Homo sapiens: one gene and its partners. The protein of the gene in region 3 interacts with the protein of the main gene of each other region in a biochemical or structural test. Each region holds a gene or a part of one and is shown on either strand. Other genes may lie near its edges.

The links.
Region 1: the proteins of DLG3 (region 3) and FRMPD4 interact in a test that uses a peptide from one of them, tested with the Homo sapiens proteins (2 studies listed by IntAct, with this or other methods).
Region 2: the proteins of DLG3 (region 3) and NET1 interact in a test that uses a peptide from one of them, tested with the Homo sapiens proteins (2 studies listed by IntAct, with this or other methods).
Region 4: the proteins of DLG3 (region 3) and LRP2 interact in a biophysical measurement, tested with the Homo sapiens proteins (one study listed by IntAct).

What each region holds. Positions count from the first base shown.
Region 1 is NC_000023.11:12,715,447-12,722,472, reverse strand, and holds part of FRMPD4 (FERM and PDZ domain-containing protein 4), read right to left. Parts: intron 6,405-7,026; coding exon 5,340-6,404; intron 4,973-5,339; coding exon 3,683-4,972; intron 1,945-3,682; coding exon of another isoform or gene 1,940-1,944; coding exon 615-1,939; 3' UTR 1-614. UniProt on the Homo sapiens protein: Positive regulator of dendritic spine morphogenesis and density. Required for the maintenance of excitatory synaptic transmission. Binds phosphatidylinositol 4,5-bisphosphate.
Region 2 is NC_000010.11:5,450,539-5,457,564, reverse strand, and holds part of NET1 (neuroepithelial cell-transforming gene 1 protein), read right to left. Parts: intron 5,736-7,026; coding exon 5,628-5,735; intron 5,208-5,627; coding exon 5,040-5,207; intron 4,741-5,039; exon of another isoform or gene 4,708-4,740; coding exon 4,645-4,707; intron 4,316-4,644; coding exon 4,219-4,315; intron 4,082-4,218; coding exon 4,005-4,081; intron 3,301-4,004; coding exon 3,043-3,300; intron 2,618-3,042; coding exon 2,447-2,617; intron 1,479-2,446; coding exon 1,292-1,478; intron 978-1,291; coding exon 571-977; 3' UTR 1-570. UniProt on the Homo sapiens protein: Acts as a guanine nucleotide exchange factor (GEF) for RhoA GTPase. May be involved in activation of the SAPK/JNK pathway Stimulates genotoxic stress-induced RHOB activity in breast cancer cells leading to their cell death.
Region 3 is NC_000023.11:70,475,820-70,482,845, reverse strand, and holds part of DLG3 (disks large homolog 3), read right to left. Parts: exon of another isoform or gene 5,218-7,026; coding exon of another isoform or gene 5,214-5,217; intron 3,697-5,213; coding exon 3,582-3,696; intron 1-3,581. UniProt on the Homo sapiens protein: Required for learning most likely through its role in synaptic plasticity following NMDA receptor signaling.
Region 4 is NC_000002.12:169,128,520-169,135,545, forward strand, and holds part of LRP2 (low-density lipoprotein receptor-related protein 2 precursor), read right to left. Parts: intron 4,163-7,026; coding exon 4,055-4,162; intron 566-4,054; coding exon 494-565; intron 312-493; coding exon 144-311; 3' UTR 1-143. UniProt on the Homo sapiens protein: Multiligand endocytic receptor. Acts together with CUBN to mediate endocytosis of high-density lipoproteins. Mediates receptor-mediated uptake of polybasic drugs such as aprotinin, aminoglycosides and polymyxin B.

The DNA of each region.
Region 1 (7,026 bases), about 58 Mb from region 3:
TAGCAAAAACCCAAATTAAATATGTGGGATTCTTGGAAGAAAGCATCCAGTAACCAAATACTATGAGCAAAAAATTAATTTATTACAGATATATTCTCTAGTAATTCATAATAGCTTCTTGAATTTTAAATGTCTTTTTGCTATTTCCAATGCTTAAAAATCATAATTTTAAAACATAAGTACTGTTTTATATACATTGTGATTTCTTTTCTTTTCTCTCTCTTTTTTGTTTTGTGTTTTACTTCTAAATATGAATGATATGGTTTCCAAGTAGCTACTTGGAAAGAAAGGGGATAGGATTCATTGTTTTGCTCTAACATGGTAGAATTTAAAATTTCACATCATATACCTGGAGTTTTAACTATATGAAAAATAGCCAAATGTCATCACTTTCTTGGATATTTCTTTTACGTGTATATATATGTATAATATAAACAGAATACATCTGATTAGTACATTTCAACATTTCATCAATGTGACTTTTATCTCCTATTTTATATAAAATAACAAAATATACAGAGAGAAGAAAGGAGACATCTGTTCATCATACACACAAAGTAAATAAAAGTTCATGTATGGCTTTGCAAAGGTAGATTATGACGTGACTTCCATATTTATTTGTTTAAAAGCCTCTTGAGAGAACGTGTCAGTGTGCTTACGAGAGCGGCCATGGTGGTTGAGTGTCGCGCCGAGAGTCCAACATTAGGGTCCCCAGGGTTCTTTCCAGTGGCTGCTTCGGCAGCTTTCAGTAGACAAATGTAATTTATGACCACTTCATCGATCTTCCCTACAATTTCCTGCCGCTGTGTTTCTGAGTTCACGACTTTAACTAATCGCATGCAAGCTTCTGTTAGGCAACAGAGCACTTGAAAGCTGGAAGTCATAGCTAGGAGCATCTCCTCCGGGCTTTTCTCAGCCATCGCCATTTTCCTACAGGCACTTCCCAACTGTCTGGACTCAATGGATAACAGTTGCTTGTACTGAGAAAGTGTAAGGTCGTACGCTTCAGGGCGTGACTCCTCCCTCTTCTCCTTGGTTGCCCTGACGAGACAGAGCAGCTCATTGGCATCATTTTGGGCTGCAAGGAACCCATCAGGCATTGCATATGTGCTCTCCTTTAGGGCATTTATTCTTGCAATCCGGGCATCAAAAGCCAGGTTGCTGAAGTCCAAGTCATCTGGGTCTCGCAGGTCTTCTGCCCAGACCTTCAGCACTGACCCTCTGGATAGCTCCCCTCGTTGCTTCTGAATCGCCACAGCCAGGCATGGGCTGCTTGGTTCTGGCATGGCTTGAGTCATCTGTGGTCTATAGAGGCAAGAGACCTGGACGGTGGCCTCTCCCCTCTCCTCTTCTTCCTCACCATCTTCATCCTGCCCTCGGTTCAGGAAGCAATAGCTGAAGGGTCCCCGGCATCTCCAATTGCTGCCCTCCAGCTTCCGCAAGGGTAATGTCCTATACAGCTTTGAGTCTTTATGAGCCACTGGGGACCTTTTGTGAAACCTCCCCTCAGAGCTCAAGTGCATTGAGCTTTGGGAAAAACTTTTGGTGAGCTTCCTCCCCAGGGGGAGTTCTGCTCGCCTTTCAGAACTGGCCTCCTGTGCTTCTGTGATGCCTGGACACTTTAAGCTGACTGCACCCTTGGTTCTCTCTCGGAAGGTCTCCAAATCGACAGATCCGGAGAGGATACTGCTGCTATGTCTCAGAGCCTTCTGGCTGGGAGGTGTCCTGAGGCTCCCCCCTCTCAGATCCGGTGGCCGCCAGCTCACAGCCTCTCCGTATGCCTGATTTGCTTGGGAGAAATCATTAGGGTCTTGATTTGGAATTGGCACCTTTGATTCCGAGTGAATGTTTGATGGTAGCAGGATGGGATCAGCTTCAGGATGTTGAGACCAAGCTGAAGGCATGCCTCCTCGTCTCTCCTTCCCAGGCTCTGTCAAAGCTACACTAGGGGTAGTAGAAAAACAGAGAGAATCATTAAGCATCTCCTGGGAGGTCATTTTTACTACATCTCTACATGATGTCTGTCATTTCTCAAGGTTGTAGTCTGGAAGGGCTGCCGATGCTAAGGTCACCCTGCTTTCCAAAGACTGCCTCTTGATATCTCATAACAAATTTCCATTTTAATGAATATCAAGAAAATACTGGAATCTGTTATTTCTGGAACTGCTGATTCATTTGGAATTGTCTAGAAATCCCAAACATTTTCAGGGATTTCATGAATTGCCTTACTCCCAATATCTACCCATCAAAGCTTAGACACAGAAAACAACTGTGTATAGATTATTCAAATATATTGGAGATATTAAGTTTCATTTCAAGGGAATTAGGTTAAATCTGGCATTGTTACTTTTCTTTTCTTTTCTTTCTTTCTTCCTCCTTTCTTTCTTTCTCTTTCTTTCTTTCTTTCTTTCTTTCTTTCTTTCCTTTCCTTTCCTTTCCTTTCCTTTCCTTTCCTTTCCTTTCCTTTCCTTTCCTTTCTTTCCTTTCTTTCTTTTAAAGAAGTGGCCTAATTTAATTAGTGCAAATTAAATAAGTGAATCTTTTTAAGAAGTCAGCATGAGGTTTGCCTGGTAAAAGTCTGAAGTTGAAACACTGGGCCAGTTGTTCAACATTTTTTTTTTTCTTTAAGAAAAGCTGTCATGTGAAGCAAATAATCCCCATCTCACAGAATTTTTGTGAGAAGCAAGAGGTAACTCAGGTGAAAGTTCTTTATAAATCATGAAGGATTAAACAGTGTGACTTAGTTTAGAGGTAAAGATGCAGTTGGGTGATGAGTTAGGTGATATTCACAGACAGCTTTTCCAAAGGAGGTAAAGCCAGTGGTGGGTTTTGAGAAAGTAGAAAATCTTAAAAGAACAGGAATAGAAAATGACCAATATAAGATGTCACTAACTTCCATTGACCTGTATGGAAAAGACACTATTGATGACATAATTTGAAACATAAAAGTATGAAAGAGTATCTGCTTTTGCCATGTGATGGCCAGCCAAGTGGATCGGTGAGGGGAATGCCTGCCATTGAGTGGTGGAGTGGTGAAGGTGGGATACAGAAGGTGGATGTGTTCTTTTTTCTACGTGTGTTTACACTTTATTATTTTGGGGAAAATAAAGCAGCTCATCAGGAATAGCCTCAAAATCTTCCTGACACTGGGGTATGCAAGACACTTCAGAACATCCATATAGAGCAGTCTTACAGAGTAGGGAGGAATCAGTAAGATTGCCGAAAGGCAAATGATCTCTCCAAACCCCTCCAATCTCCCTGATACCCTGCTCTCTTATCCTTCCTTGTCCCTCAATAATGAAATGGCAGAATTAGAACTCAGATGTCTTGGGAAGAAAATCAAACTGTTATGTGACTCTAAGCAATACTATCATATAACTAAAAGTCACACTGGGCATTGCTAAACATCTGCATTTAGAATTTAGGAAAAACATATTGCCCCATCCAATTCTGAAAGCAAGCACAGAGTAAGATTATAAAGAGCAAATGCCATTTTCACCTTTATAATCTTTAGTATTTATTAAATACCAGGGGATCAATGATTGGTACTTTACAGTTCTGTGGCCTTTTAAAATTCTACCTTTTACTTTTCTTCCAGACATTACGTTTTTAAGTTTGTTGTAAATATGGTTTACATGCTCTTGGCATGTCATACAAAGTGCTAAATCCATCATTGCTGTACCTGTGGTTTCCTTAATCTTGGGGAGCCGATGGCATCCATCTCTCAATGTGCCAAACAGGGGTTCGGTGTTAATGGCTGTGTGCAGAGCAGGCACTGTCATCCGTGGACACATCCCTTCTGTCTGTGGGTGCAGTTCCTTAAAGGTGGCTCCGTGGTTGGGAAGCCCAGGGGCTCTCTCCTCTGAAGGAATGTAATTCACGCCTTTCCCAGAAGCGTCAGGAATCAAGTGCTTCCCCAGGGAGGGGCAGAGCGGCGACTCCACGGGTGTGGCACAGGCACTGCCACTGCTGCCTGTGCCACAGCCTGCATCCACTGAAGAGCCTTGGGAGCTCTGCAGAGAAAAATGGCCCTCGCTTTGCAGTGATGACATCCGCTTGGCCAAGTGGTAGTCACAAAGGCGGGCCACACTCTCATCAGCCTCAGGAAGCTTGGAAGGATGGTCGCAGGTGGACGAGTCAGCGTCCTCTGGGTTATCTAAGTCTTTGGCTGAAGATGCACAGGTCACGTCAGTTAAGAAGCGGTCCCCTTGACCAAGTCCTGAGCCATCACTGGTTTCTCCATCAGGAGCTCCTTCTTCCTTCCCTTCGGCCTCCCTTGCCCCAAGACCAGAAGCTCTTGGAAAGGTTTTCCCTGTTGCTGCTTCTAATCCACTTTTTTCAGCCATCCCACCTTCAGTGGCCACATACCATCTTTGACTGTCCTTGCGAAAGGCAGTTCTCTCCAGATTAAAAGTGCTCAGGTGTTGACTGTCTCGTGAAGACACAGTACCAAATTTACCACTGGCCTCCTCCTCCATCTCTGCCGTTTTGGTCCCCTGCTGTTTTTTTCCTGTTGTGTTCCCATTAGGGGGTGCCTTCCCCTCACCATCGGCCAGCTTGCTTTTCCTTTTGCTAGTGCAGGAGTATGCCACCGACCCCATGTGCAGTTTGCTAAAATAGTCAGTGACCGACTTAGTCTCCATAGTTTCAGGCTCCATCTCCATGTGGTCTGAGTGAAGTAACTGCTTGGAAGGCACAACTTTGGGCGGGAGGTCGGTTGCTGGCCTAGCAGCCAGGGCGTGCGAGGACTTTGGAGGCAAGCCCCCAGCGGGGGTCTTGGAGGCCGGGAACTCGGTCTGCTCTTCTGCAAGGGGGTGGTAGCCTTCGTGAGTGGCCAAGAACATGCGGGAGAGGTTTTCTGACTGTTTTTGTGCTGTGGCCAGTTCAGAACTCTCAGTCATTTCAGAAGAGTTAGTTTCATTGCCCGAGTCTGACGAAGACTCAGGACTATAAGCCCGCAAGATGGCTACACCTGCATGCCGTAAAAAACAAGAACTGATTAATGGATGCATCAGAGGCACTTGGAGACATGTAAGAAAATGGGACTCGTTATTACTAAAACAAAATACCAAGTTTTTCCCTTTTCAGTAAGGACTCTGAGTTTATTGCAGTTTTTCCAGAAATGGGGGTGGGGGGAGATGTGCCTTATGTTTTTAAAAAAAAATAACAAAGGAAATCACATACACACAAAAAAACCCATGATGGCAGTTTCAGCACATTTATGAAATGGGACATGTGTGAAATGGAGAACACCACGTAACAGGACTCCAGGGGCAAATGGCTTGGAAGGATGGAATGATATGGTTATCAGTGAATGAATGTAACAATTGTGAAAGAACCTGAATTGTCACTGGTCTGCTGTTCTTCTGACACGGATAGAGCCTCTAGAGCTCCCAGCGTGGAGACGACGGCATTATCCAGTCCCTTCTCACACTTGCCTTCGGCGCTGGTGGGCACAGCGTCAATGAGGGACACGGGGATCTCATCATTTTGCAGGCTGCTGCCTTTCTCCTTGTCCTCGGGGAAGGAAGCTGCCTGGCTCTGAGAGTCCTCTTCATCTGAACTGTCTCTAAAGCCAGGTGGGGGTGCGGCAATGGCCATGTTCAAGGAACGCAACAGGAAGTCATCCTCATTGTCATCACCTTCTGGAGGGGGCAGGGATGTGAGGTCAATGATGTCATCGCTTGACCCAGACAGGTTGAGGATGGCCGGCTGGTTCATCTCCCCCACCACGAGGTCCTCCTCGCAGCTCACCTCGTCCTCGTCCTCCGCGTCATCAGTGTTTTCTGCATAACAGATGTCATGCAAGAGGGGTTCCTCGATCCCCTCCGCGGCCTGGAAGCTCTTCACATCGCCTATGTTTGCATAAACAGAATTTTCCACAAACTGGATGCCCTCTGCCTCTGGAGTGAGATCCAGGCCCTTCATGTCATTGGCACTGCCAATGTAGAGATTTCTCTGCTTCTCCAGCATTTCAGGACCCTCATCTAGTAGCGTTTCATAGCCAAGGGTTGGGGGACTAATACCATCATCCAAGGCGAAGTCTCCAAAAATAAAGGACACTTTAGCTCCTCTCGGAGATTCCTGTGCTTTCTTCAGAGTTTCTGGTCCTGAGAGGGTCAATAGGGACCGCTGAGCTAGACTTCTGTAGTCTGCCTCACAGGGGGCCTCCCCGGGCTGGCTCAGCTGCTGGTTAAGTCCATCTGAACTATAGGCATTGTCTATGTACAAGTGCCGGTGCTCTTTTGGACACATGGTGCTGTCTGTGATCTCCACCGTCTTCTGCTTTGAATCTATGTATGTTATCTGGGCTTCTTGTTCCCCTTCGCCAATAAAGGTGGTCATTTGGGGTATACAGTTCCAATCTGGGCCAAGGAGGTTATGCTTCCCCTTGTTTTCAGGTCCTAAAGAGAAAGAATCACGCAAAGACACATTACTGTACTGTCTGGTTTTGGGTGGGGCGGGGGTGGGAGGCTCGTCTCTGTTTTTTAACTTAATGGCTTGTAGCATCACTTATGTAAATACAGTTTTTCAACTACCCAAATATAGTACTTATTGATTTAGGCTTCAGGTGTAAGAATTCCTTGGGTTAGGAGAACCGACCTTAACAAAATTGATACTGCATAAACTGTAATTGCTATTTGATAAAATGTAATACCATCTGGGGGTAGGGAAGTATAGCTTAATTCCATCTGACCCTTGGTTCTATTATTAAAAGGCTTCATTCATATCTACAAATGTAAATATACAACATGTCTTTTACCCTTAAAGGTGAGATTTCAATAGGCCGTTATTCCAGAACATTAATTGTTCTTTTCCTTGTAAGGTGAGATTTAATATTCCCTACTTCATGGAGGAAGATATTGAGTGTTTTCCTCATTGAATTCAGAGACGGTCAAGGATCGTCAGAGTTTTACCATAGTTTTTAGGAAATTAAGATAAATGTTGTAATGATAGTACAAAACTTCTATCTTCAGTCTTTTGATATCCTAGTGGATGTTAAAATATTCATGTATAAATGTCAGC
Region 2 (7,026 bases), on a different chromosome or scaffold from region 3:
GGAATGTACAGTGAAAAACAAACTAATATAAAGCATTCCAGTTGATAAAAACCTCCTCAGGCTTATGGTTTGTTTTCCAAGGAAATTATGTTTCAATGTAAAGTTTGAAATACTCCAGACATACATTCCATGTAGGTTTTGGGTGCCAATGTTAAAATTTCAAATTTTGCATGCAAGGCTTAGCAAAGAAACACTGGCAGAATTCCAGCATTTGCAAAATTCTAAGTTTTGGTGAATATTGTAAATATTACAATTGGTATTAGAAAGCCATGATGAATCCAGAATTAAGAGAAAACCCATTTCATAAATATTTTGTTTGATTAAAAAATACCAGGCTTACCATGTTCTAAATAATTCAAGAAAATATCTTTAAAAAAAAAAGGACTGCAATTTAACAGTAATCTGTATATCTTTAGCTGCCATTAAAAAAAGAAAAAAGAACAACCAAAAACAATGAAAATGTTACAACTGGTATAAAGTAACCCTATGATGCTCCCCTTACGAGAAAACAAAACTGTACACATTTATAAACAAACAGTCTCTCCCATCAGTTAACACACAGAGCCTTCTCTACACCAAAGTCTCTTTCCGTTTGCCACCAGAAAGGGCTTTGTCCCTCGCTCTTCGGATGCCGGGCTGTGTCTGGTGTGTCTTTAAGCTCTTGCTGTCCTCTGCCATCTGCATGCCAGAGCCACATCTGTAAGCGTTTTCATCAACTTCTACCTGAGTAACACTGGAAACTGTGGATGCCCTCCTCTGGGCTGTGAGTTTCCTCGCAGAGGGGTGGTTCCCCTCACACTCTTCGTGCAGCTCCGGCAGGCCCTGCAGCTCAGGTGGACTGCCTGCCGACTGGAAGGGGGCAATGGCCGCTCGAATACAGTTGAACCACTGCTGCTTGTGGAACACGTCATTGGCTTGCAGAGTGTGAGACTGGGCTGGAGAGGGGTCATGGAAGCGAATTCTAAAGATATTTTTAGCTGAAAAAAAAAATTGGAAAAAAAAAAGAAATCAGGCTAAAAAAAGGTTTATTCTAGACAAAGTGGTCATACAATCTTAACGTGACTGTCAATTTATGGCAATTTATTTATGTCAATGTGAATACATTAAGCCTATGCATTATTTCTTAGATACACCTGCGGGTGTTCGAGCTGGGAAGGCCTGGACAACTCAATGGATGTAACAAGTATAGGACAATGGAGCCATTTCATCTCTAGAATTCTTAAAGGCAAAACTAAATTCACTTCAGTTCTGAGCTTCTATTTCTTTAAATTATTGAAGGCCTGCATTTTACCTTTCTCTGAGTTACTGAAAGCTCCTCGAAAGGAGCCTCCCATTCTCACATCTCCATCCTGCAGGTCTTCTAGGACTAGCTCTTGGACTGGGATTGGCTGCCGGTAAACCTGGTAAGAGTGCCGTTCGTTCCGTGTGACGGGCCGAGTCAGAACCAAGATGTCTTGAAACAGGAAAATGTAAAGTTTCTGGAGAAATGGGAAACAAACGCTAAATAGGAAACTTGTGTTTTTAAGTGACTGAAATATATTGCTAAAATAACTCGACATTATTAATTTCATCAGATTTATTTTTCGAAGATCTCTCTAAGTGACAAATCTAGTAATCCATAAAGATGGCAATTTCAAGGCTAAGCATGTTCTATTTGGAAAGTTTTTCCAATCTCAGAATAAATAAAATGTTTCTTATTGGTATGTAATATCAGATTAAGCAGCAGCTAAGTGAATGCTCTGCATCACAAAGACCTATTAGTAGCAACATGACTTGAAACACTAGCGTTGTATACCACAGTTTTCTAACACGAAGGAGGGATTAAAAATGCAAGCTGGTAAAATGTTAATGGTTCTATTTTGTCCCACACAAATTTATACCTTTATAAATTTTCCCCTCGTGAGGGAAAAATCAAAGATGTCAGATTTCAAATTTTTTTAAACAAAACTCCAACTTATAAATTGGGCTTTTGAAAATGCATGATGAAACAAAAATACCATTCCGTGACTGCACTTAGTTCTAGCAGGTACTTTTATAATTAGCATTTAAAAAATACATTTGCATTCATTCAATCTGCTTCAGAAATTTGTTATGTAGTGCGAAAAACCACTTTCATAAGCATAAGATAAACTCTTAGAAGTTTTTTTTGAAGGATGCTTTTTTATTAAGCATTATGGAACTAATACTGTATTTAGACAGGAACCCCTGGCCTAACAAGTTGATTTATGCTTCGAAACTAAAAAATAAAGTATTACTGATTCTCCACTGAGACATTTAAGGTATCTTCTTTGTTGGCTTTATCAAGCTGGTAATATAAAATTAAAATTGGCAACCTTCTTTTACTATGTCATGACTTTCCCTTTACAAGCCTGCTTCATAACAAACGTGTAAAAGTTAAAGAGGCAGGAGGGAAGGCTGCTCTGCCACGGCAGCAAAAGTCACCTACATGTCCACTCTTGCTCCGCAGCTCCCCATGGCACAGCAGCACTTTGCTCGCTTCGATTCTGGGGTCCCTCTGCTTTTCATCCAGGTACTCCAGCTTGTCGATGTAATACTGGCACTCGGATTCACCTTTCTTCAAGTTGATATCAGAGAGGACTCCCTGTATTATCAATATCTGAAAATGATAAATAAAATTGACAGAGCAGCTTCAGTTTATTAACTCATTCTGCTTCCTGCAGAGCAAAAATGTCATATGGAATGGAAGAACTTTAAAGCTTGAAGGGACTCTAGAAATCAGTTAATTCTGCCAGTCTGTTCATTTTATAGATCAAGAAACAGTCCTAGCCAAATTGAGTGATTTGTTCAAAGGTGACAAGGTGAGATCAGATGAGAATCCTGTCCCTTAAGATACAAAATGTGCGAAGTCCAGCATACACAGCTCCTTATTGCTTAGTGCACAGCGTACTAACGCACTGGGTACTTAAAACAACAAAACAATTCACTATGCTGATGTGAATCAGCATCTTCAGAAGATAACGTTCTAAAGCAGCCTAATGTATAAACTTAAAAAACAAAACAATCACTTAAGGGACTACTTACAGCATCCTCCAGAAGCTGAACATCAGGGTGCTCTTTTGGAGTGTGTTTAAGAATTTCTTTTAACAGTAAAGGGTATTTGACTAGGCGACTTCGAGGGATATCTAGGAAACTCCAAAGATCTAGTTTTCGACTGAAGGGAGACTCGAGACATCGCTGGAGGAAGTCTTGGACTCTTGGATCCTGTTTCTTTTGATCAAGAAGAGCTTTGGCTGCCAGCTGGTTACTACAGTAACCTCTGTAGGCATTCAAGCGCGGTAACTGAAGAGTAATAAAAGAAAAGGTATGATGTGTTCCTGTTATGACCGAGTGCATTAACAAGCCTGCAAACATGAAACACAAAATGTACAGCTATTCTTGAGAGTTTTAACAAGCTGTGGACATTTTCTGGCAGATAATAATGGAAGCTGAATAGCATTTTAGCAATCATCAAAATGCTCTTCAAATTTTCATAATTTGGCTAAATCCAAGTGAAGATTCATGACTTCTACTCCCCTCCAACCTCAGACACTGGCAGTCTGTGCTCCCAGGACACTTGAGTGTCCTCCATTTGCCACCAGCCCTGAGACTGTTTATGTGCTTGGCTATTCCTTCACTAGGCTATAAAGGCAGAGACTGCCTTTCATCACTGACTCCCAGCGACTCCTCCTCAAACAGTGCCCCGCATTTGGCATGCGCTTAAACATACATGACAGAATGCAACGGATAATCACACATGATGTGGGAATTCTATCCAAGCAGGAACGTATTTGTAACACAAATGAACCTATAGCATTAATGAAGGTGTTTTTTTTTTTTTTTAAACAGACTGTAACTTCTTATGTCACTGTAAATTTGTTCAGTTTTAACGCCTTATGTGTTTGTAGAACAGAGTTGTGGGATCAAATCTGTCTCATATTCATCAGAAACTGCAACATGGCACATCTGTAAGAAACTGTATCTGGGGTCAACAACTCACTACATACCCAGCTCACGAGAATGTGACCAATCTGCTCCACTGTTCCATCAGGCTTGGTTGCTTCTCCTATTCTTGTCAACAAATCTGAAGTGATAAAAAAGCATAAACACCATTAACAGGTTTATTTAAAAAATAGGTCAGCACTACATTAGAAGTTTAGACTGAAAATTACATGCACCGCTGCTCTTTAGATTTAATGACAATTAAGTGGCACATCTAACCTTCATGCAGAGGTATGTAAGAGTCCAGATCACCAAATATATGTGTGAGTTCCTCTTCTGACATGATGGACAACTTTAACATGGGGTCATGATAGGCCTGTCAGAGGGGAGAAATGTGTCACAGAGAGATCATGTGAGGAAAACATGAGGGATCTATACTTGGAAACAAAGAGAATTAATTACATAAAAGCTAGCGTGGATTCTGTTTGCTACACATAAAATAAATTAGTATGTATTAATCCCCAAATAAACTCTCTTACTAATACTTGTATTTGAGGATGTGTCTAGACCTCACCTAAAAAAAATGTATTCACCAGTAGATATTTTCTATTCTTCTACTTCTAAAGGTTAAGAAAACTATCCTTTAGATTTTGTGAAATGTAATTTTTAAAAACTAGGGCATCTGATAAAAAGTTATTTACTGACCTTTCTTGCAAGTTTGAGATCCTCAATTAAATCCTGTTCACCTCGGGACATTTCATATATTGCCTAAAAACATCCAGCAAACATCAGAGGTCATTCCTTCGAGAAAGGAAAATTATATACAACTGATAATTACATTATTTGATGTTTTGAACGGCATTTTAAAAAGTAACTCAGTCTGAAAATTGTAATTCAGAATGGAATCTCAAATACAAGGTTGCCGTATGTTTGGTAAGTTTACCCTATTAGAGTTGTTTAATTTGACCACCATCCATCATTAGGTTTTGTTCACCATGTATTAGGAATTGTTGCTCAAACACAAAAATCCAAGTTAATTTTGCCATCGGCATCAATTTGCTGTTCTTTTGGGAAAACATGTACACTGAGTGCCAGCATACCTCCTGCCGTCTGATCTCCCTGGTGGTGAGAGACTCCTTCATGGTGATGTCCAGCATCTCTGACCACAGTGCACTGCTCCTTCTCTTGGCGGGTGTTGGGACTGTTGACCTGCTAGAAAACTTCTGGGCAGAGGCTGGGGATCTGTGGTCACCACGAAGGGTAAATGACTTAAAAAAGAAAAGGTGAACAAAAGAGAAAATAAGATTTGGAAGAAATAGAATTATTCCCATTTTCTTTTTTTTTAAAGTGAAGAAAGACAAAGTTCTGAGAATTTCTCAATGCAGAAAACAATAATTTATCCAAGTTTCCACCTACCAATCTTAAATATTTATCAGCTAAAATTACATTTTTGGGAATAAAAACTAGCCAAGACTATGCATTATAAGATGCAAATTAATATAAGATGCAAATTAATATAATGAGGCTACACATTGTTCTGGAACAATATTCCTTACTAGCATATTCCAAAAAGAAAACTATGTTTAAATATAATAATGCAAACTTGTTTGTACAGCTCAAAGACAACTACAAATTCCAGGCTTCTATAAAGTCCGCTGACTACATTACTCTTCCTCCTCTCTTTTTACCTGTATTGTTTGACCAAAACGTCTGACAGCTCCATTTCTTACAGGAGAGATTAAATTTGCCAAGGACGTGACACGAGCCAGAGGTCGAACTCTTTTATTGCTTGGCTCCTATAAAAACAAACCAGATGACACTAAATATATGTCTAGGTGCAATGATTTCATACAAACTTGGACAAAGTAAAGCCCTCTCACAAAACAATTTTTGTACATTATAAAATACAGAAACATGAAAGTAAGAGTTGTTCTTCATTGTCAAAACAATAAGAACTCTATTGAGTAGCAGTAACTTTTCAAAAAATAAGTGTGTAAGAAAGGCCAGTCAAATATTTCCAATAGGGGAAAAAATTAAAATTCAAACAAGGAAATTACATCCTAAAATCTAATGAACTTTTCAGTTTAATGCAGGGAATAACTTTTTTTTTTTTTAAAAAAAAGCCTTATTGTTATGAAAATTTTCGAACATACATGAAAGTGGAGAATGGCATAATGGATCCCATGTGTCTATCGAGGGGCCTCCACAGTGTCTGGTATAACAATTTGTTTCATTTTTGTCCCTACTTAAATGTTTTAAAGCAAATCTCAGACATTGTATCATTTCATTCTTAACTACTTCCGTTAGAAAATACAACCTTTCAATCAACATGTCTGACACTGGAATGGGCTGAAAAATATTGAAGCCAAGGCAGGGAGGAGTTAAAAGAGCACCCAGGCTCTGAAATCTGACTGGGCACAAATCCCGGCTCTACCACTTGCTAGGGCACACCCTTGGCATCAGTTTTCTCATCTATAAAATGGGGCTAAAAGTAGCACTTCTCTTATGAAGTTGTTGTGAAGATTAAATGAATAATATGGCTTGAAACAGTGCCTGGCACATACTCAGTTTGAGCTATTACTAACAGATTTTAGGAATATTTCCATTTACTACATAAACACTGGGATTCATAGATAAATTAGATCCTCTCTCAAACAGTAATTTATTAACTTAAAGGAAAGATATATACAAATCGAGAAGAAATAGTTATGATTCTACATGTTATTGCTTTTAAATAATAATATAGCAAACACATCACTTATTCAAGGATTTTGAAACTTTACAAAAATTGCATTATTCTAATTTTATCGCTAGAAAAATGGAGGCATACCAGTAGGTGACTCACACAGTTACTGAAATGAAGAATGCCAGATCATAAAACTAGCAGGTCTATTCTTTATGTCTATGGAGCATAACTATTTGTATTTTGTGCTTCTGACAATTGTGGCATACTTGACAAAATAATTTTGATGAGAATCCAGGAGGATATATAATTTAAAATTATATTAAAATTATCACTGAAAAATAAGACATCATTTAAAAATAACAGAAGAAGCAACTTTTTCTAAAAATTCTTTGACATGACTA
Region 3 (7,026 bases):
AATACAAAAAATCAGCCGGGTGTGGTGGCAGGCGCCTGTAGTCCCAGCTACTCGGGAGGCTGAGGCAGAATGGCGTGAACCCAGGAGGCGGAGCTTGTAGTGAGCCTATATCGCGCCACTGCACTCCACTCCAGCCTGGGCGACAGAGCGAGACTCCGTCAAAAAAAAAAAAAAAAAAAAAAACACCACACATGTATTTTCCCAAACCTGATGAATCCAAAGCACTAGAAAAGGAGCCTGGGAATCTGTATTTTTACTAGCATTCCAGCTGATTCCTATGAGGAAGTTGGGGAAACACTGAAAGAACCACACTTTATAGTCAGAGCAACCAAGTTCAAGTTCCAGTTTTTGAACTTCTTAGCTATCTAACTGGAGTCTCAGTTTTCTCATCTGCAAAATGGGAATCATAATATCTACTCTGTAGGATTATTAAAGGGATATTAAAAGCCATTTAAAGAGAATAACAAAGGTCTTGATGAACAATGTGTTCCCTAAATGTTTGTTCCCCTTTATCTTGAAGACACTGAGGAACTAGTGAAAGCTTTTGAGCAGATCATGTTCAGATTATTGCTTTAGTTTCAACCCCCTCTGCAATACCCAGGCAAATGGTTGCCCAGCCTCTTCTGTAACACCTTGAGTGACTAAAGATCGAATTTACTATATCCGGAAGCAGTCCATTCCATTTTCAGACAGTTTTAATCATTAGCTCTTCCTTCCTTATGTTGAGCAGAGATCTGCCTTGGGTGACAGAACAAATCTAATCCCTTTTCCACATGATAGGGTGAGGCAATTAACTTAGATAAGGAAAGTACATGCCGCTTGTTTGAGGCGCTGAGAGGGCAGTTTTATTTATGCACATGTCCAGCAAGTAGTAGATATGCAGGTCTGTAGTTCAGTAAAGAGATCAGGAATGTCATTTATACGGCAGGATTTGAAGCTGTGAAAATAAATGACATTGCCATTTAGGGGGGCAGAGCTAATGAAAGGTATTAAGGAATGGTAAGCAGGGTAGAAAGAGAGCCTTTAAAGAAGAAAGCAGGTAATTCATGGAAACAAATGTGGTGAAGAGGTCAGAACAATGTCAGAGAACCAGTGAACCAGTCACTAAATTTGAAGACTAAGAAGTCACCCACTGATCCCTGACAGAGAGTCAGGTTTCTGCTCCCCTGGAGCTTTCCAGAGCTGTTCAGAGCCACACTACCACACTGAAAAGCAGATGCACGCTTCCTTTCGGGCTAGTGAAAGAGAAGTGATTTGAAGCAGCAGCAAGTACTCCAACATTTCCCAACCTGGATGTTGACATAGGTTTCTCAAATAAGGCTCCCACGCTCTATCTTTTGGGGAAACACTGCCTAGTACAGTCCTTCCTGGAGATTAATCACAGGAAAGAGCCCCATTTTCCTCTGTTTAAGCCTGCATTTGCCCAACTTACTAAACCACTGATTTTTCACACAATACTTAGTAATATCTTGAGGAGCTAGTGTTTTCTGGCCAATAATTTGGCAAATGCAGTAAGCAAAGGGATACAAGACAATAGTTTAAGGGACTATTGGTATCAAGGGATATTTTCTTCTTTTTAAGAATGGAAGAAGCTTAAATATGTTTACATGCTGAAGAAAAGGAACCAAGTGTAGAGTGAAGGGCCAAAATCAGGAACAAAAGGGAAGAGAGTAAGCCAGGTTCTGATAAAGGGGTTAGCTTAGCAAAGGGCCTCAGCTCAATGCTTTAGCCATAAGACATTAAGTGCCCCTGATTAAATCTAGTGATCACAAATGGTTACTATTTTCCTAACCACATCTACTTTCCTCAGAGGATACAGATAATTTATCTAGAGAAGGTTACGGGCAGATTATATAAACTGATTCACTAGACACAGTCATGGTCTCCACCCTCGCCCCAGAGTTAAGCTAAGTGTATCCCTTTAATTCCCTTGCCTGAGCCAGGGAAGAGTGCTCCATATCGGGAGCCAATGTCCCACTCCCCCTGCCCAGGCAGAGAGAACTCTAACACAGGATAGGCGGAGAGGGGAAATCTAAAAATAAAGCTCTCCAAAGAAACTGTCTTGCCTAAAGAGCAGCTTCCCACGCACACTGGAGTGCCACATCTGCGGGGGCTGGAAGCACGGAACGGAACAATCCTGACCAAGTCATATAACCATTACCTATTTTGGGGGGTCGACAGTGCATTTCTGATTTCACCCATCAGCACCCCAGTATCCAGGCTGCAGACTGGGAGCAAGGGCTTTAGTGACAGAAAACAAAACTTTCCTTTCCGGGGAATTGGAAAAATGACCAGTGACTAGTCCCGCCTTCCTACCATTCTCCCTTCACAGCGGGAGGTAAGCATAGCACATGCTTTCAACACACAAGGGGTGGAGTTGAGGGTTCACATTAGGAAAGATTGTGAAGGGTTCTAGTGGGCTTCAGGCTCAGAGATGGGCTCCTTTAGCTCCACTCCCTGCGGTAGAGTCAGGGACCACCAACTGGGGAAAAAGAAAAGCAAGCACCATGAGAAAAACTGCAATTAGCGTTGACATCCCTTCACTATTGTCCTCTCACACCCCAAGGACAGAGCAGTTGTCACGTTGCCAAGCAACTAGCAAGTGCAACTTCCCAGCCAGGTATCAGAGGCCACTAGAAAAAGTTCAGCCCAAGAGTTTGATATGACCCCACACCTAAGCATTAAACACAATACTGTAGCAACTTCTGGCTCAGGAGAGTAATCCCCACCACCTTTCTCTAAGGGCTTTAACCTTGGAGGATACAATGTACTTGGCACCAGATTTTGGAGTTTTGCCAAGAAGCCAAAGCAGGAAGAAGGAAGCTATCCCTAATTCTATGAGGAGTCCACAGTATTCACTTGGCACTCCAACTCCCCAGGAGATTTGTACTTTGACCTGACAAAGTATTAAGCTATGCCTCAAGGGTCAGAGAAGCTCAACCTTGGAAATATCTTGGAATAGCTTTCAGCAGCAATATACTCCATGCTACCTATCTGTTCCCTCCACCCCCTCCCTCTTCCTAGGGCACATACACTATACATCCCATGATTCATAGATACAGCAGACCAGTGCAGCGGGTGGTGAGGGGGGAATGGAATCACAATAAAACATCCAGAATGCAGCAACCTGTCAGTTCTTTGGTCTCTTAAAAGAGATCCTGTACCAGAACACTGCGATAGTTGCTATGCTCAGATACAAATCCTGATGTCTATTATGCATACATGGAAGGGGATGGGGGGGTGGCAAGTTTCCCCTCAAAGCACAGATTGCAAGCAAAGTACTTTGAACATTTGACTGATATTTGAATGCTGACTAGCAACAATCACCCAACAGTCTTTTACAATTAGAGCAAACTGAAATTTTCCCATACTGAGTCATTCATGAGCTAAAAGGAAGAAGCCAGCTCACAAAAGGGAGGAGACACTGACCATAAAATACACAACCTAAGCATACAGTGAGAAGCGTTATTTTAGAACTGGGAGTACATACTCCCTAGCCCACTAGTTAAATAAGAAGGGCTGGGTTGGCATGGAGCTCTCCTCGTCCAGCACAAGGGCTAGTGCTCTGAAGGGCAACTTACCTGACATACAAGGACCTCTTTTCACTTGTTCGGAGGGACCCAGACCCAGAGCTCATGCTGCTGTTCATCATTTGTTCTCGTAAGTCATGTATCTTCGATTCAAAGCGACTGTATTCTGTCACGGAAACAAGGGAAAAGATGGGAAAAGAATGAACTCAAGGAGCGCCTCTGAGCTTGCATGCCAGCAGCCAAAAAGCCAGAAGGCCCCTTGGCTTAAAAGCAGCCAGAGCCAGCCCACTCAGTCTTTGCTTTGATAAGCAAAGTCCCTCCTCCTAAGCACAGAAAGACAGACTTCCCTTCAACCCCAGACTAACAGAAGGAAAGAATGCACCTGAAAAGGGAGTAGCATTTGGGCAGGTCAAATGCACAAAGCTCTTATCTGCCTCAAAATGTCACTGATCCTTTATAAAAATAACAACTGGAAAGAGGTTCCAGTGCAACCTTTATAAATCTTTAGAGCTGACACTAAGGCCCAAGGAGAGCAGATGGGAAAGGAGACTTTCCCAAAAAGCGGATTGCAGAGAACAGATGGCCCTGAGACGCAGAGCGGAGGGGCTGGAAAGGACCTGAGGTCAATTATATCATTGTTAGGCAAGAAGACAATTTTTTCAGGATGACTTTTTGGCTGGGGTGAAGGGGGGTGATATTGGAACCCAGTACAGAGGTAAAAACAAACAAACCTCACAACCGTAACAACCATATGAGGAGAATTAAAGCTCTCCTGAGTTATTTCCCTTTTAACCAATAGCCTCTTTGGCTTCAGTAGCATACATTAAAACATAAATTCTCCCAAACCGAGAAGTCGGCTGACACCTCTCACCTCCAAAATCATCCAGTCAGTGAGGTCATAAGTCCATCCCTAACCTTATAGCCCATTGAGACCATCACAACAGCTGGAAACAGCCTTATCACTCTGGAAATGTAATACAGGTTTATGCCGAATTTAAGAAAACCTGATACAAGAAAATTAACTCTAGCTGTACAATTATTATAAAAGGCTTTTTATAGGGCTGCTTTGCTGTGACATTCTCCTAGGACATTTAAAATACAATATTCACACTTACCAAACACACAATTACACATTTTCCAGGCCTATAATTGCCGCATAAAATGGGGTATATCTAAGGCCACAGGCCGTGGAAATGCTAGAAAACAGGCACACTTCACTATGACAAGCTGACTTTGAAGCGAGTCAAAATTTATACTAGGGGTTGAAGGTTGGGAAACTGCTTTAAAAAACAAACACACTTCCAGGGGAAAAAATTCCACAAAAGCAATTTCGTGCACCATAGAGGGCTGGCAAGAAGCATCCCCACCTAGTCCGTATGACTCTACAGGAGAAAACAAAACACCTGTTCCAGCACCTGACACTCCCCTTCCCTCTGCAAAGCAACCAGACTGACCTTCAACTGGGTGTAAGGGGAATTGCTAAAGCCTAAAGGGGAAGGAATGGAGTGAGGCAAATAACCTCCTCTCAACAAAGTTTCTTTTGTTCACTGTGATATCAGTTTAACCAACGGGTTAAATTCGTGTGCTCTTTCATTCATCACACGCCGGTGTTATGGTGATTTGTCCTCATTACCTACTCCTGTTCCTGAAATCCTGGAGGAAGCAGTTAAGTCACTGACTCACCCATTAAACGTTGCGGGGGGTGGGGTGGCGGAGGGTAGAGAGACAACAGCTGGACAATGTTCCTGTTCTGAGGGTTACACGGCAAGCCATCAATATCAATGAGGTGCCCCAACCTAAGCCCTGGACTGTCCTAGAGCATAACAGCAGGCCAGTCTACCTCTGGAGACCGCCTGGGTGCTGGCCCCACCCCAGGGCTTGGCCCTCTACACTGGGTGGGGATTGTTTCTCATTTGTTCCTTTCTGGCCCTCCTCTGAGCTCACCGGCTATGGGCAGAACCGTGTGAGACAAAGATTTCTGACCAGGCAGCCCTTTCTTAGGGGAAGATAAGTCAAAGAGAGAAAGAACTATGCATTGAACTGTGAACAAAAAAGTACACCCAATCTATCTTTAAGCCATGTTTTCCCCTTCTTGAAACTTGTTTATATATTCCCTTCTTTGGAATCGACTTGCCCGCTGAACTCCAACTTAGCAGCAGGTCATGGCAGTTGCTTAGTAACTACATTTCTTTAAAAATCCTTTAAAAAACAACCACGAAACCACCATTTCCTCAAAGCTCCTAATCCAAGGCTGATAATTCTGGGCCAGAGGGCCCACTTAAAATAGACTACAGAAAGAGAACAAAGCTATTGCTCTAAGGCATACGCTTTTTGTTTTTACATGTGCTGCTAAAATTTCAAGTTTATTAAATTGTGTTTTATTCACTTTTTTTTCCATTTGGATGATTCCCTTAGAGTTCCAGCTGCCCATCAGTCTCTGGCTTTTATTTGTAGATTTATCTAAAGTCTACTAGGCAGAGCAGCCTTTGAATAAATGATTGTTGGGTAAATGAGGAGCAAATTAGAAAACTGTGTCCAAGTTGACACTTCTATTCTTAAACTAATAAACTTAATGGTTTATTTAACTGATGGCTGCCAGCTTCACTGAGGGCTTAGAAAGGTGGTTAAGAAGCATTCACATTTACTTTTGTTCCCAAGGTTAATTGTTGGGAGCAATTGGGGTTTATTATTTTTAAACACCCTTTTGAGATGTTAACAACCCACAATAGGCGGCTGATTAACAACTTTTTACAACAAAGAAAAATCATTCTAACAAAAAACTGTTTAGAATAGACTTAGATACTACCTCATCTTAAATATTAGAGGTATCATTTTCCCAGGACAAAAGCTTCCCTTAAAAAGCATCTCAATTCTAAGACTTCAGGACTCGCCAAGCTCCCTCCTTCCCTCTGATTTGTCACTAACACAGCCATCGCAGCCAATGCTGGAGGACATCTCCTAGGCCAAAGTCACCGCCTAGGAAGCCCACCTGACCAGCCTCTAACCCAGAGGGCCCACTTCAAAGAAGCAACACTAAAATCTCAAGTCTACTAAACTGCTTTGTTTTTTCCCATTCAGATGAACCCAACTGTTTGTGACCCACAAAGATATCCAGTCATCGCCCTCTTTCCTTTTTCCCAGTTGCTAATCACAGAGAAACAAGTGGGAGGGGGCACAATCAGAAGTCAGTACCGAAGAAGGGTTTTGCCCCAGTCACTGACAAGTTGGGGTGCCTCTAAAAGATCAGGATTTGGCACCCCATCCCAGATACACAGAATCAGAATCTACTGAGCAGGGGCCCAGGAATCTGCATTTTAACAAGCATCAGTGTGATTCTGATAAAGTTTGGAGCTGCTGGTCTTAACTTACAGAATTGGATCCTGCAGTGTCTCTGAAAAGAAAGGTGGGGCCAGAGAGTGGATAAGCTCTCAAAAATAAAACTTGGTAATACAATTGCAAATCCTTCAGGAAAGGAAAGCCCTAAAGATGCCACAGT
Region 4 (7,026 bases), on a different chromosome or scaffold from region 3:
CACACAGGATACCTCCAACTATAGGCAAACAGGGAAAAATATATTTTTTTCATAAAGTACTGAATGTTAACTTTTTTCATCTGTTTGTAAAAAATATATGTGCAAAAGTGTGTTTCTAATTATTCCCTAAATAGCTGGTATAGCTATACTTCAGAGTCTTCTTTAACAAGATTTGCGGTGTCTTTAAAAGTGTCTTCTGTTGCAGAATAGGTTGGAGTTGGGTCTCTTCTCGAAGGAGGCTTAGGCTTAGCAGGGAGCGAAGGTGATGGAGGTGGTGTCGCAGCAACACTTTCCTTTTGCTCGTTCTCCATCTAAGAATACAATGTAACAGGAATCAGCCATTTATTCCCCCAAGGTCACCATACACGGTTTTTCATAAAGAAGACTATTTGTGGCCACTCTGCTCAGAATAATCTAAGTGTGTGTCCAATTTAACCAAGCAAATAATTTCTAAGAAAAAATGTCTGTGCTAAGAAAAATTGTTAAAAATTACCTGTGCATAGATTGGATTTTCAAAGTTGGTAGTTTGTTTAGATTTTCGTTTGAAGAGATTCCATTTTGTCACCTAAATGAAAAGGGGAAAACAAAAACCTCTCAGTAATGGAATTATTTTGTGGGTTTCTTTTCCTCCTGTCTCAGTTTTAAAATTTCTTCTTACTGAAGGGTAAAGCAATTTGGGACCTGGGACCATGTGATTCAGCCCATATGGTAAATTGTTCAATTCCTCCTATGGTCCCTGAACAGTAACTGAAACTCTGGGCTCTTTTAATCGAATGGTTTTAAACACTTCTTTGACTTCAAATTTATATATTATAGAATTTGTGCCATAGTATCTACAAGCAAATCACCTGGTTACCTCAGTACAGAGAGAACACATAAAACAGACATGCACAAGATGCATCTGGAGAAAAAGAGATTTCTGGGGCTGCCTGAAAATTGGGTGGAGATGGCAAAGCCAAACTGTAACTCTTATTCCCTAAAGTAACATTCTTTGGTCAACTCAAGAGTATCCCTTCTCCCTTCATCATTCCCTCCTGTGTCACAATAATAATAACAAAAACATCTAACATTTATTGAGTGCTTACTATGTGTCAGGAACTATTCTAAGAGTTTTACAAGTTTCTGATTTTTTTTAACAAACCCCAGAGGTAGGTACACTTATTATCCTATACTTGCTGAGTCACAGCAAGATTATACAACTAACTTGCAGGTAGAAGGGCAGGTAATGATTACTCAGGGGACCCAGAGGCCCATAAACTGGAGAACCCAAAGATAATCACCCTGGACCATGGTGCGTGGCCCACGCTTTACTGAAAAGTTGCCTGTCATGCTGACTGCCAGATAAAAACCTGGTGGGAGACAAGGGAACAGACAGCCTACTCTCAACAGGAGCTGAGGGAGCCCACAGGTTTTATGGGGTGTCTCTTACTCTGTGACAGCAGGGGACCAGCCTGTGGAGGAGTGGGGAACACAGGGCTACAGAAGTAGAAGAGGTCTTCACTTTAACCCACATTCAAGTGAGAACCTGCTTTGTACATAGTGCCCCCAAGGGGAACATGAAGACATTCAGGTCAGAGCCCTGCCTCTGGGCGCTTACAGTTAAGTGGGGCGGGCCAAAGTCTCTTAGATGTCATTGCTTCAAAATGAAATGGCTAACTTGAAGTTAAGCAATTACTAACAAGAGGAAAGGGACGGTGACTTTCATTTTTGTCTCCTTGGGGGATCCTATGCATATCAATGTAACTTTTGGAAAATGATAGAACTGAATCTTTTTTTTTTTTTTTTTGAGATGAAGTCTCACTCTGTCGCCTAGGCTGGAGTGCAGTGTCACAGTCTCGGCCCACTACAACCTCTGCCTCCCGGGTTCAAGCAATCCTCCCACCTCAGCCTCCTGAATAGCTGGGACTACAGGCATATGCCACCACACTCAGCTAATTTTTGCATTTTTAGTAGAGATGGGGTTTCACTATGTTGGCCAGGTTGGTCTTGAACTCCTGATGTCATGATCCACCCACCTCGGCCTCCCAAAGAGCTGGGATTACAGGTGTGAGCCACCGTGCCCAGCCCATGTTTTTAATTGTTAGTCTTTCAACATATTTATGGATGAAAGATACATTTGTGGGACTCTGGCATATTCAAATCAACCTAGGTGATCTCACCCAAGCGCCTCTACTGCTTTTAAAGCATGCTGGCTGTTAACTCAGTGCCCAGGAGGGAAGAAATACAGTGAGATCCCTGGACATAACATGGAAGACACATTTTAGAGGGTCTCAGCCTCACTAATGTAAAAAAGTAAGAGGAGGAACCAAGGTATTACAAAAGGGAAGAGAAAGAAAGGACTACAATTGGTGAAGATCTGCTCTCCTTTGAAAGAGACTGTCAGTTTACATTTTGTTTCTGATAACAGACATGCAGATCAGAGGTTACAGCCTCCCCACCACAGTCCCCTTCCTGCACCAGCTGGGGAAAATGTCTATTTAGTGAAGAAGATCACTAGACTAGAGATGGACTGAGAAAAAATGTTGAAAATATAAAATAAATCTGGCACTAGCTTGGGGTTGACTCAGGCTTGGAGGACCAAATATATGACATTCAAGCATCCGTGTGTCTGTGGAAAATTAATCTTCAAAATCCATTTTTAATATAGCTTAAAGAAAAAATGTTTAGTCCCTTGAAAAATCTGAAACTGAAAATTCCTTTCTAGACAATATTTATGTATGTCTGTGAGTGTATGAGTGTGTGTGTGTGTGTGTGTGTGTGTGTGTGTGTGACATGAGAAGAAGAAATAAGGGAATTTGAGAAGGTGTACAGAAGCCTTGATATAGACTCTTCTCAGCATCAATTTAGGTCAAATTTTATTTTGATTTAAATCAGCAGAACAGAAACCAATGTTTAAGGTGATAATGAGACTGCCAAGTTACCAAGATATCAATGTTTATAGACTATGAAATTTGAGAAATAAAGATTGTATAAAATGGTAAAATTTCCAACTACTCTTAGACTTTCATTTCTTTACATTACTTCACAAAATTGGTCATAGAATCTTAGAACAGAGACATTCCAGATCCTAGCGGTTCTCAACCAGGAGTGAGTGCACATGTGTTGGGGAGGGGAGGTGATTTCTGGGGTCACACTGAATTAGGGGAGACACTACTGGAATTTAGTGGACAGGGACCAGAAATACTGAAATTCCCTGAGTGCATAGGACAGTTTTGTAGCACAAAGAACTGTCCCACTCAATATGCCAATAGCGCCCCCAGTGAGAAATATTATTGAGGACTCTAGCCCCAGAAGTAAAACAGTTTGTCCAGATTCAAACAGCTATATCTGGTATAGCTGCAAATGCATTCATTAAAACTAATGATATACATTAATACAGAGTTTAATATCAAATATATTTATTGAATTTCTTCCTGCAGACCAAATAGTGTACCAATTGCAAAGGACCTGCAGGCATGTTTAAGAAGCTCCATCTAGTGGCATTTTTTTCTTTCAATCTCCAGTATTAAACACCATCCCTGACACATCGAGGGGAATAACGTTAGTTAGATGATTGGTTGGCCAATAATGAATAGATGGATGATGAATGGAAAAATTAGTGCCATCTAGTGGTAAAGATCTGTAATAGCAGGAGAGCGAAGAACAGCTTGAAAGAATAAAGATGCATGCTGTAGAGAAATCACGGCACACACAGACGGATCTTTCATCTGTATCTTTGACACCGTGAAATCTTTATTCATACTGAGTCAATTTCTCAACTTAAATGTCTCTGGTCTGAAGATACTGGATCCAGAAGTCTATTTGTTCTTCTTTGTGACATGTCCTCCTATGTTACAAGGAACATTATTCCCAACTCGATGTTAGAATGTAGCTTTATTTGGTGGAAAGTTTTTCAATCTATGACTTTTTAAAAAATTATATTTATTAACTGTCAACACATCTTGAGATCTTTGAGCCTTCCAGAATCTCCCTTGTTTGCTTAAGGTTAATAAAAACCCAGTCATCCCAAAGTTTTTCCAAATCCCACATTATTTCAGGAGTCGGCAACTGTTACCTGAGTTCCATCAGCAGCTGGTGAAGTTGGGTTTGTCTCTGGAACTATCTCAGAAGGGTTTATGGGACTTCCATAATTCTTATTATCCACATTTTCAGATACAGTCACCTGTGGACATGTTAAAGGCCTTTACCCAATTTTGAAAGAATTTAGTAGTAAATAAATTTGCTGTAAAGTTTGTACCAACTCTGGCTCTTTTTGCCATCTTGTTCTCCCACAGACATCATCAGGCACCATTTTTATTGCATGACCCAGTAGGCCAGGACTAAACATCACTCCCACCGCCCCAAAATCAAGAGCAGCAACCACTAAGTCACCTCATACCTTAATCCTGGGAGGCAAATACATCCCTCACTGGTCACACTCTCACTTATTACTAGCAATTTCTACTGTATTCTCTATACCTTCTTACTCCCACTGTTGACCAAATTTTTGGATAATCATACTCTAGTTATATACTGGAAGCCAAATCCTAGAAGAACAGCAAGAATAATTCCCCAACCTCACTGATGAACTGAGAATCCTATCTTTGGATCTTAATAATTTCTTTGAATATTAATAAATCCTATCTTCGGAAATTAAGATTTCATAGTACTACTAAAAAGAGGTTGAATTTTTGAAAAGATGAGAATGATAGAATTAATAATCTTCTACGCATTTTTCTATAACATTCATACAATTCCAAGGTTCCCTTTTAAGACCAAATTACCATGAATGCATAATAAACTACAAGGTAGACAATTCACTCCTTTTCCTATATTTTCACATTCATTACTTGTTTATTCTGAAACTTGGATATGCATTTGTATACATGGCCTCATTTTATTTTAAGTGAAGATGTCAAATGAAATGTCGTATCTCTTTTATCATGTGATTAAAGTTTTCATATCTGTTTATCAGAGGATCAGGGAAAATGCTTTCAAGATTTAAACATTTCCGATCTTAAAATCACAAAATATTTGTAAAATAAACATTTCTAGTTTCTGTATTAAAATGTGCCATATCTCGAGTTCAAAAGGAGCATTAGGTGTTAACAATGACAGTTATTCATTGTCACTAAGGCCATAGTTGTTGTGACAAAGGAGATACATGTTCGCAGTTGACAAGCAGTAAAAGTGGCGCTGGGGCTATTGATGCAGACCTTATGTAAAGTTATTCCCTTCACCTATATTCCTATTTCATCTCCCAGCTCTTCTTAAAGATGACGGACTGAATCTCAAACATGCTTTCTTTACTATTCCTTTGCACCCGTCATCCCAGCCTCTCTTCACTTTCACTTAGACTGAACCTGACACCCATCAGGCTCAGCAAATTACCTGGGCTGTACTGCTGCAAAGCTTCACAGACAGCCCCCATTACTTCAGTCAAGCCCAAATTTCATCCTCATCTGTTACCTATTTCGGCATAATTCTCATAAAAACACACATGCTCTCCCTGCTGATCAAGTCTGACTAATCTCCCAAACCTCAATCCCTTCTACAAAACAACAACTCCTTTCCTTCCTAGGCATGGTTAGTGCAGTCAGAATTCTTACACAAGAGCCGGGACCGTGCCCTGTAGCCTTTCTGTCCAAACAACTTGACCTTACTGTTTTAGCCTAGCCCTCATGTCTGCGTGCAGCGGCTGCCACTGCTTTAATACTTTTAGAGGCCCTAAAAATCACAAACTATGCTCAACTCACTCTCTACAGTTCTCATAACTTCCAAAATCTATTTTCTTTCTCCCACCTGACGCATATACTGTCTGTTCCCCAGCTCCTTCAGCTGTACTCACTCTTTGTTGAGTCTCCCACAATTACCATTGTTTCTGGCCCAGACTTCAATCCAGCCTCCCACATTACTACGGATACCACACCTGACCCCCATGACTGTATCTCTCTGATCCACCTGACATTCACCCCATTTCCCCATATTTCCTTTTTTCCTGTTCCTCACCCTGAACACACTTGGTTTACTGATAGCAGTTCCACCAGGCCTAATCGCCACTCACCAGCAAAGGCAGGCTATGCTATAGTATCTTCCACATCTATCATTGAGGCTACCGCTCTGCCCCGCTCCACTACCTCTCAGCAAGCCGAACTCATTGCCTTAAGTCAAACCCTCACTCTTGCAAAGGGACTACATGTCAGTATTTATACTGACTCTATATATGCCTTCCATATCCTGCACCACCATGCAAGAGGTTTCCTCACTACACAAGGGTCCTCTATCATTAATGCGTCTTTAATAAAAACGCTTCTCAAAGCCGCTTTACTTCCAGAGGAAGCTGGAGTCATTCACTGCAAGGGCCATCAAAAAGGCATCAGATCCCATCGCTCAGGACAATGCTTATGCTGATAAATTAGCTAAAAAAGCAGCTAGCGTTCCAACTTCTGTCCCTCACAGTCAGTTTTTCTCCTTCACATTAGTCACTCCCACCTAGTCCCCCGCTGAAACTTCCACCTATCAATCTCTTCCCACACAAGGCAAATGGTTCTTAGACCAAGGAAAATATCTCCTTCCAGCCTCACAGGCCCATTCTATTCTGTCATCATTTCATAACCTCTTCCATGTAGGTTACAAGCCACTAGCCAGTCTCTTAGAACCTCTCATTTCCTTTCCATTGTGGAAATCTATCCTCAAGGAAATCACTTCTCAGTGTTCCATCTGCTATTCTACTACTCCTCAGGAATTTCTCAGGCCCCCTCCCTTCCCTACACCTCAAGCTCGGGGTTTTTCCCCCGCCCAGGACTGGCAAATTGACTTTACTCACATGCCCCAAGTCAGGAAACTAAAATACCTCTTGGTCTGGGTAGACACTTTCACAGGATAGGAAGAGGCCTTTCCCACAGGGTCTGAGAAGTCCACTGCGGTCATTTCTTCCCTTCTGTCAGACATAATTCCTCGGTTTGGCCTTCCCACCTCTATACAGTCCGACAGTGGACCGGCCTTTACTTGTCAAGTCACCCAAGCAGTTTCTCAGGCTCTTGGTAT